Homo sapiens: one gene and its partner. The protein of the gene in region 2 purifies or fractionates together with the protein of the main gene of each other region. This does not show direct contact. Each region holds a gene or a part of one and is shown on either strand. Other genes may lie near its edges.

Region 1 (3,816 bases), on a different chromosome or scaffold from region 2:
CTTCAAACGTGAATCAAAATCCTTGTAGAGTACAAAAATTAGCTGGGCATGGTGGCACCCGCCTTTTTTTTTTTTTTTTTTTTTTGAGATGGAGTCTCGCTCTGTCACCCAGGCTGGAGTGCAGTGGCGTGATCTCGGCTCACTGCAAGCTCCGCCTCCCAGGTTCACGCCATTCTCTTGCCTCAGCCTCCCAAGTAGCTGGGACTACAGGCGCCCACCACCACGCCCGGCTAATTTTTTGTATTTTTAGTAGAGACAGGGTTTCACCGTGTTAGCCAGGATGGTCTCGATCTCCTGACCTCATGGTCCGCCCTCCTTGGCCTCCCAAAGTGCTGGGATTACAGGCGTGAGCCACCGCGCCCGGCGAAAAAATCCTTATAGAGGCTGGGCCCGGTGGCTCACGCCTGTAATCCCAGCACTTTGGGAGGCTGAAGCGGGCAGATCACGAGGTCAGGAGTTTGAGACCAGCCTGGCCAATGTGGTGAAACCCCGTCTCTACTAAAAATACAAAAATAATTAGGCCAGGCGTGGTGGTGCATGCCTGTAATCCCAGCTGCTCGGAAGGCTGAGGCAGGAGAATGGCTTGAACCAGGGGGGCAGAGGTTGCAGTGAGCCGAGATCTTGCCATTGCACTCCAGCCTGGGTGACAGAAGAAGACTCCATCTCAAAAAAAAAAAAAAAAATCCTTACAGAGCTAAAGCACTGCACTCATAAATCAAGACCAGAATATTCTTTTTTTAAAGGAATGTAACTGGGCGCAGTGGCTCACGCGTGTAATCCTAGCACTTTGGGAGGCCGAGGCGGGCGGATCATTTGAGGTCAGGAGTGTGAGACCAGCCTGACCAACATAGTGAAATCCTGTCTTTACTAAAAATACAAAAATTAGTTGGGTGTGGTGGCAGATGCCTATAATCCCAGCTACTCAGGAGGCTGAGGCAGGGGAATCTCTTGAACCCGGGAGGCGGAGGTTGCAGTAAGCCGAGATCGTACCACTGCACTCCAGCCTGAGTGTGACAGAGTGAGACTCCGTCTAAAAAAAAAAAAAAAATCCCAACTTCTCAGGAAGCCGAAGCGGGAGGATAACTTGAGACCCAATCTGGGCAACGTAGCAAAACTCCATCTCTAAACAATTTTTAAAGAATTAGCCAGGCTTGTGGCACATGCCTGTAGCCCCAGCCACTCAGGAAGCTAAGGCAGGAAGATTGCTTGAGCCCAGGAGTTCAAGGTTGCAGTGAGCTATGATCGCACCACTGCACTCTAGTCTGGGTGACAGAGCGAGACCCCATCTCTAAAAATAAAAAAAGAAAGATAAAAATATAAATTTGGTTCTATTAAAATAAAGAGCTGCTGTTTATGAAAAGAAACCATTCAGACAATTAAAAGGCAAAGCACAGAGGGGGAAAATATATTCACAATGTATTTATCTGGCAAAGTGCTCATATCCAGAATATATAAAGAACTCCTACAAATCAATAAGAAAAAGACAAACGACTCAATATGACAATTGTCAAAATGTTTGAACAGAAACCTCACAAAGCAGGATATCCAGATGGCTAATAGCCTTATGAAAAGGGACTCAACTTTATTAGTCATCAGGGAAATGTAAATTAAAGCCACATGGAAAGCAGATCAGTGGTGGTCGGGGTGTGGGAGGAGGAATGACTGCAAATGGGCATCGTGCAATCAGTGCTTGTCTGGGGCAGTGGAAATGTTCTAAAACTGGATTGTGGTGATGGTTGCACAACCATACACATTTGTTAAAAATAAGCTGAGCCGGGCGTGGTGGCTCATGCCTGTAATCCCAGCACTTTGGGAGGCCAAGGCAGGTGGATCACCTGAGGTCAGGAGTTCGAGACCAGCTTGGCCAACATGGTGAAATCCCATCTCTACTCAAAATACAAGAAGAAATTAGCTGGGCATGGTGGCGGTGGGCATCTGTAATCCCAGCTATGTGGGAGGCTGAGGCAGGAGAATCGCGTGAACCCAGGAGGCAGAGGTTGCAGTGGGCCGAGATCACGCCATTGCACTCCAGCCTGGGCAACAAGAATGAAACTCCCTCTCAAAAAAAAAAAAACCCTATAAAAGAACACTCAAAAAACAAGAGCTCTTGGAACTTAAAAATATAGTTACAGAAATTAAAAATTCAATAGATATTTTAGAAGATAAGTTGAAGAGGTCTCCGGAGAGTAGGACACAGAAAGAAAAAGAACCGAAAAATAAGAAAGAAAAGTGTAGGCCAGGCATGGTGGCTCACGCCTGTAATCCCAGCATATTGGGAGGTTGAGGCAGGTGGATCGCCTGAGGGCAGGAGTTTGAGACCAGCCTGACCAACATGGTGAAACCCCATCTCTACTAAAAATACAAAAAATTAGCCAGGCGTGGTGGTGGGCGCCTGTAATCCCAGCTACTAGGGAGGCTGAGGCAGGAGAATCGCTTGAATCCGGGAGGCGGAGGTTGCAGTGAGCCAAGATCACACCATTGCACTCTAGCCTGGGCAACAAGAGCGAGACTCCATCTCAACAACAAAAATAGATAAATAAATACAGTTAGCTGGGCATGGTGGCGCGTGCCTGCAGTCCCAGCTACTTGGGAGGCTGAAGCAGGAGATCGCTTGAATCCGCGAGGTGGAGGTTGCAGTGAGCTGAGATTGTGCCATTGTACTCCAGCCTGGGCAACAAGAGCAAAACTCATCTCAAAAAAAAAAAAAAAAAAGGCAATTATGAACTTCAAAACCATTTGAGCAAAAAGGGAAAAAATAATCATAGTTACTCTGTGGCTTAACTAGGAACACTATTTATATGTGTTACTATTTACAGCCATATCACATTGTTTTAACCAAAGACTACAGACACTACTCACTTAGAAAGAGGCAAGGAAATGTGTGTATTGTGTGGGCAGGGAAGAGAATGTAAGACAGTGAAACCTTCTTACAAAGTCAATAGATAATGTGTGAAATGGCAAAACAAAGAAGTGGAAATATGTCATAGAGAAGAAAACACTAGAATAAAAAGGCACAGCTGGCCCGACGCCGTGGCTCACGCCTGTAATCCCAGCACTTTGGGAGGCCAAAGTGGGCAAATCACCTGAGGTCAGGAGTTCGAGACCAGTCTGACCAACATGGAGAAACCCCGTCCATCTCTACTAAAAATACAAAATTAGCTGGGCATGGTGGCTCAACGCCTGTAATCCCAGCTACTCGGGAGGCTGAGGCAGGAGAACTGCTTGAACCCAGGAGGCGGAGGTTGTGATGACCTGAGATCACGTCATTGCACTCCAGCCTGGGCAACAAGAGCAAGACTCCATCTCAAAAAAAAAAAAAAAAAAATTAGGCCAGGCGCAGTGGCTCGCTCCTATAACCCCAGCACTTTGGGAGGCTGAGGCGGGTGGATCACCTGAGGTCAGGAGTTCGAGACCAGCCTGACCAATATGGTGAAACTCCATCTCTACTAAAAAAATACACTCCTATTACCCCAGCAATTTGGGAGGCTGAGGCGGGTGGATCACCTGAGGTCAGGAGTTCGAGACCAGCCTGACCAATATGGTGAAACTCCATCTCTACTAAAAAAATACACTCCTATAACCCCAGCACTTTGGGAGGCTGAGGCAGGTGGATCACCTGAGGTCAGGAGTTCGAGACCAGCCTGACCAATATGGTGAAACTCCATCTCTACTAAAAAAATACAAAAATTAGCCAGGCCCACACCTGTAATCCCAGGAGAATTGCTTGAACCCAGGAGGAAGAGGTTGCAGTGAGCCGAGATTGCACCACTGCACTCTAGCTTGGGCAACAGAGCAAGACTCCATGTCAAAAAAAAA
Region 2 (3,816 bases):
GGCTGGAGTGCAGTGGCGCCATCTTGGCTCACTGCAAGCTCCGCCTCCCGGGTTCATGCCATTCTCCTGCCTCAGCCTCCCGAGTAGCTGGGACTACAGACGCTCGCCACCACGCCCGGCTAATTTTATATATTTTTTAGTAGAGACGGGGTTTCGCCGTGTTAGCTAGGATGGTCGCGATCTCCTGACCTCGTGATCCGCCCGCCTCGGCCTCCCAAAGTGCTGGGATTACAGGCATTAGCCACCGTGCCCCGCCCTGTCCTGGACTTTCTTAGTCCACTTTTAACGTCTCTCCTGAAAGTATCACAGGCATTTCAAACCTAACATTGTCAAAGGGGAACTCCTAATTTCCTCCCACCCCCAAGGCCACACTTTCCCAAGGTATTCCCCTCAAGGAAACTCCAACACCATCTACCCAGTTCTTCAAGCCGAAAGCCTGAGACAGTAAACCTAACGTGGTTAAGAGCATCTGCTCTGGAGCCAACCTAGTTAAAACACAACTTTGTTATTTATATTAACTATGTGACCTCGGGCAAGTTGGGTTCTTCTGAGACTCATATGCCTTAAAATAAGTAGAACACTTAGAATAGTAAGTTCTAACTAAATTACCACACAGTAAATTTATAATTATTCTTTTTTTTTTTTTTGAAATGGAGTTTCGCTCTTGTTGCCCAGGCTGGAGTTCAGTGGTACAATCTCCCCTCACCGCAATCTCCGCCTTCTGGGTTCAAGCGATTCTCCTGCCTCAGCCTCCCAAGTAGCTGGGATTACGGGTATGCGCCACCAGGCCCAGCTAATTTTTTTGTATATTTAGTAGAGATGGGGTTTCTCCATGTTGGTCAGGCTGGTCTCAAACTCCTCACCTCAGGTGATCCACCTGCCTTGGCCTCCCAAAGTGCTGGGATTACAGGCGTGAGCCACTGCGCCTGGCCTACAATTACTGTTCTTAATGCCTTATTTCCTAATTCCCATCAGTAACTCTTTTTTTTTTTTTTTTTTTTTTTGAGATGGAGTCTCGCCCTGTTGCCTGGTCTGGAGTGCAGTGGCGTGATCTCGGCTCACTGCAACCTCCCCCTCAACTTCAAGCGATTCTCCTGCCTCAGCCTCCCAAGTAGCTGGGATTACAGGTGCCCACCACCACGCTCAGCTAATTTTTTTGTATTTTTAGTAGAGACGGGGTTTCATCATGTTGGCCAGGCTGGTCTCAAACTCCTGACCTCATGATCCGCCCGCCTCAACCTCCCAAAGTGGTGGGATTACAGGCGTGAGCCAATGCACCCTGCCTTCCCATCAGTAACTCTTATTGTCAGTTCTACCACCAAACATCCTGCATCTGTCCACTTCTCTCCATCTCTACAACTGCTACCCTCATCCAAGCCACTTGCATCCCTCCCTGCCTTAGTATTTCCTCCCTTCTTCAGTTCTTCCCCTACGATCCATCCTCCACAAAGCAGCCAAAGGGATTCTTTCAATATATAAAACTGGCCGGGCGCGGTGGCTCATGCCTATAATCCCAGCACTTTGGGAGGCCAAGGCGAGCGGATCACGAGGTCAGGAGATCAAGACCATCCTGGCTAACATGGTGAAACCCCGTCTCTACTAAAAATACAAAAAATTAGCTGGGCATGGTGACGGACGCCTGTAGTCCCAGCTACTCAGGAGGCTGAGGCAGGAGAATGGCGTGAACCCGGGAGGCAGAGCTTGCAGTGAGCCGAGATGGCGCCACTGCACTCCAGCCTGGGCAACAGAGTGAGACTCCATCTCAAAAAAAAAAAAATTAAAAAAAAAAAAAAAAAAAAAATATATATATATATATATATATATAACCAAATATAATTCCTCTGCTTCAAACCCTCCAATTTCTCCTCATTACACCTTAGTTAAAAATCCAAATTCCTTTCCTTGGTCTTAAATGCCCTACACATCAGTGATTCACAACCCTAGTCATATATTAGAATCATCTATGGAGGTTTTTAAAAAATTATTCATGCTTAAGCTCCATCCTGGACCTATTAGGTCAGAATCTGGATGTGATGCTCACCAAAATTTTAAAAGCCTACCAGGTGATTCTTCTTTTTTGTCGTTGTTGGAGACGGAGTCTCACTCTGTTGCCCAGGCTGGAGTGCAGTGGCGCAATCTCAGCTCACTGCAACCTCTGTCTCCCGGGTTCAAGCGATTCTCCTGCCTCAGCTTCCCAAGTAGCTGGGATTAAAGGCGCCCACCACCAAGCCCAGCTAATTTTTGTATGTTTAATAGAGATGGGGTTTCGCCTTGTTGGCCAGGCCAGTCTTGAACTCCTGAACTTGTGATCTGCCTTTCTCGGCCTCCCAAAGTGCTGGGTTTACAGGTGTGAGCCACCACACCTGGCCAATTTTTGTATTTTAAGTAGAGACGGGGTTTCACCATGTTGGCCAGGCTGGTCTTGAACTCCTGACCTCAGGAGATCCACCTGCCTCAGCCTCCCAAAATGCTGGGATTACAGGTGTGAGTCATCTCGCCAGGCCTTTTTTTTTTTTTTTTAGAAGGAGTTTTGCTCTTGTTGCCCAGCCTGGCATGCAGTGGCATGATCTCGACTCACTGCAACCTCCAACTCCTGGGTTCAAGCTATTCTCCAGCCTCAGCCTCCCGAGTGGCTAGGATTATAGGCATGTGCTACCACACCCGGCTAATTTTTGTATTTTTAGTAGAGACAGGGTTTCCTCACGTTGGCCAGGATGGTCTCAAACTCCTGACCTCAGGTATCTGCCCATCTCAGCCTCCCAAAGTGCTGGGATGAGCCACCGCGCCCAGCCTCAAATTGACTGATTTAAAAGAATATTTATGTAGTCTCCTCCCCAAGAATCTGGCACACAAGTTAACGAAGAAAGAAGCGGCTCATGGGTAATGGGTAGGAGAAACCAAAAGAGAAAAAAAATCCATCTACCAGATAGCCAACTTTGGTCCAGCAAGAGGTTTCCAATCTGAATCTTGGCACTCTAAATGGGTACTAAATTGAACATAAAATGTTTCCCAAATAGACAAACATAAAACACCTTCATGATTCTTTCAGACTGAGATATTTTAAGAAACTTTAAAAGGAAATAAAAAATCTAAGTAACTGAATGACCAAGACTACTACTAATGTAAGTTCTAGTGGTACCACTTTACATCTAGAAATGAAGGTATTACCTTTGGGATATCTCCCTTAATACCTGGAGGGAGCCGCAGGATCCAGAAGTTCCTGTTGCGCAGCAGGTTCTCCAAGTTCTCCAGCCGCCTCTGCAGCAGCCCGTACTCCTGCAGCAGGGTTCCCAGCACGGCCCACTTGCCCTCCAGCTGGTTCCCAAGCTCGGTAACTGTCTTTTCACAGCTGGCTAGTTTCTTCTCTGCTGTCCCTGTCCGACCTTCCAGGTGTAGGAGTCGCCGGCTGTGGATCTCCACCTTCCTCTCTATAGCCTGCACGGCGGCCACCACTGTCCACAGAGAGATAGCTGCTGTCTGCAGGTGTGCCTCATTTGCTGCTGGGGGTGTAGGAAGAGGAAGGGGCTGCAGGGATGTAAGGCACTCGGAGTCCCATTCAGATGTCTGCATGCAGTGGAAAGATGGAACAAGACATTGAGTGTTAGAAGGAACCCTAACTCCAAACTAAAATCAGATAAGGACTGCTTAACTGTCCAGCAGAGATTAATTTGAATATAGTTCTAGTACTGCCTGCGTATGCCTCATCTTTCTGGAGCTCACTGGCATCAACAGCCAAGAGACCTGATTTGGTGGTTCTGGGATAGATTGGGTAAGACAGTGAATTAATGAAATTGGCTCTTGAACTAGTCTGGTATA

Evidence for each region.
Region 1: the proteins of ZNF398 (region 2) and FERMT3 purify together in Homo sapiens (affinity purification with mass spectrometry; one large-scale study listed by BioGRID and IntAct). This does not show direct contact.

What each region holds. Positions count from the first base shown.
Region 1 is NC_000011.10:64,213,065-64,216,880, reverse strand, and holds part of FERMT3 (fermitin family homolog 3 short isoform), read right to left. Parts: intron 1-3,816. UniProt on the Homo sapiens protein: Plays a central role in cell adhesion in hematopoietic cells. Acts by activating the integrin beta-1-3 (ITGB1, ITGB2 and ITGB3). Required for integrin-mediated platelet adhesion and leukocyte adhesion to endothelial cells.
Region 2 is NC_000007.14:149,153,693-149,157,508, reverse strand, and holds part of ZNF398 (zinc finger protein 398), read right to left. Parts: intron 3,565-3,816; coding exon 3,169-3,564; intron 1-3,168. UniProt on the Homo sapiens protein: Functions as a transcriptional activator.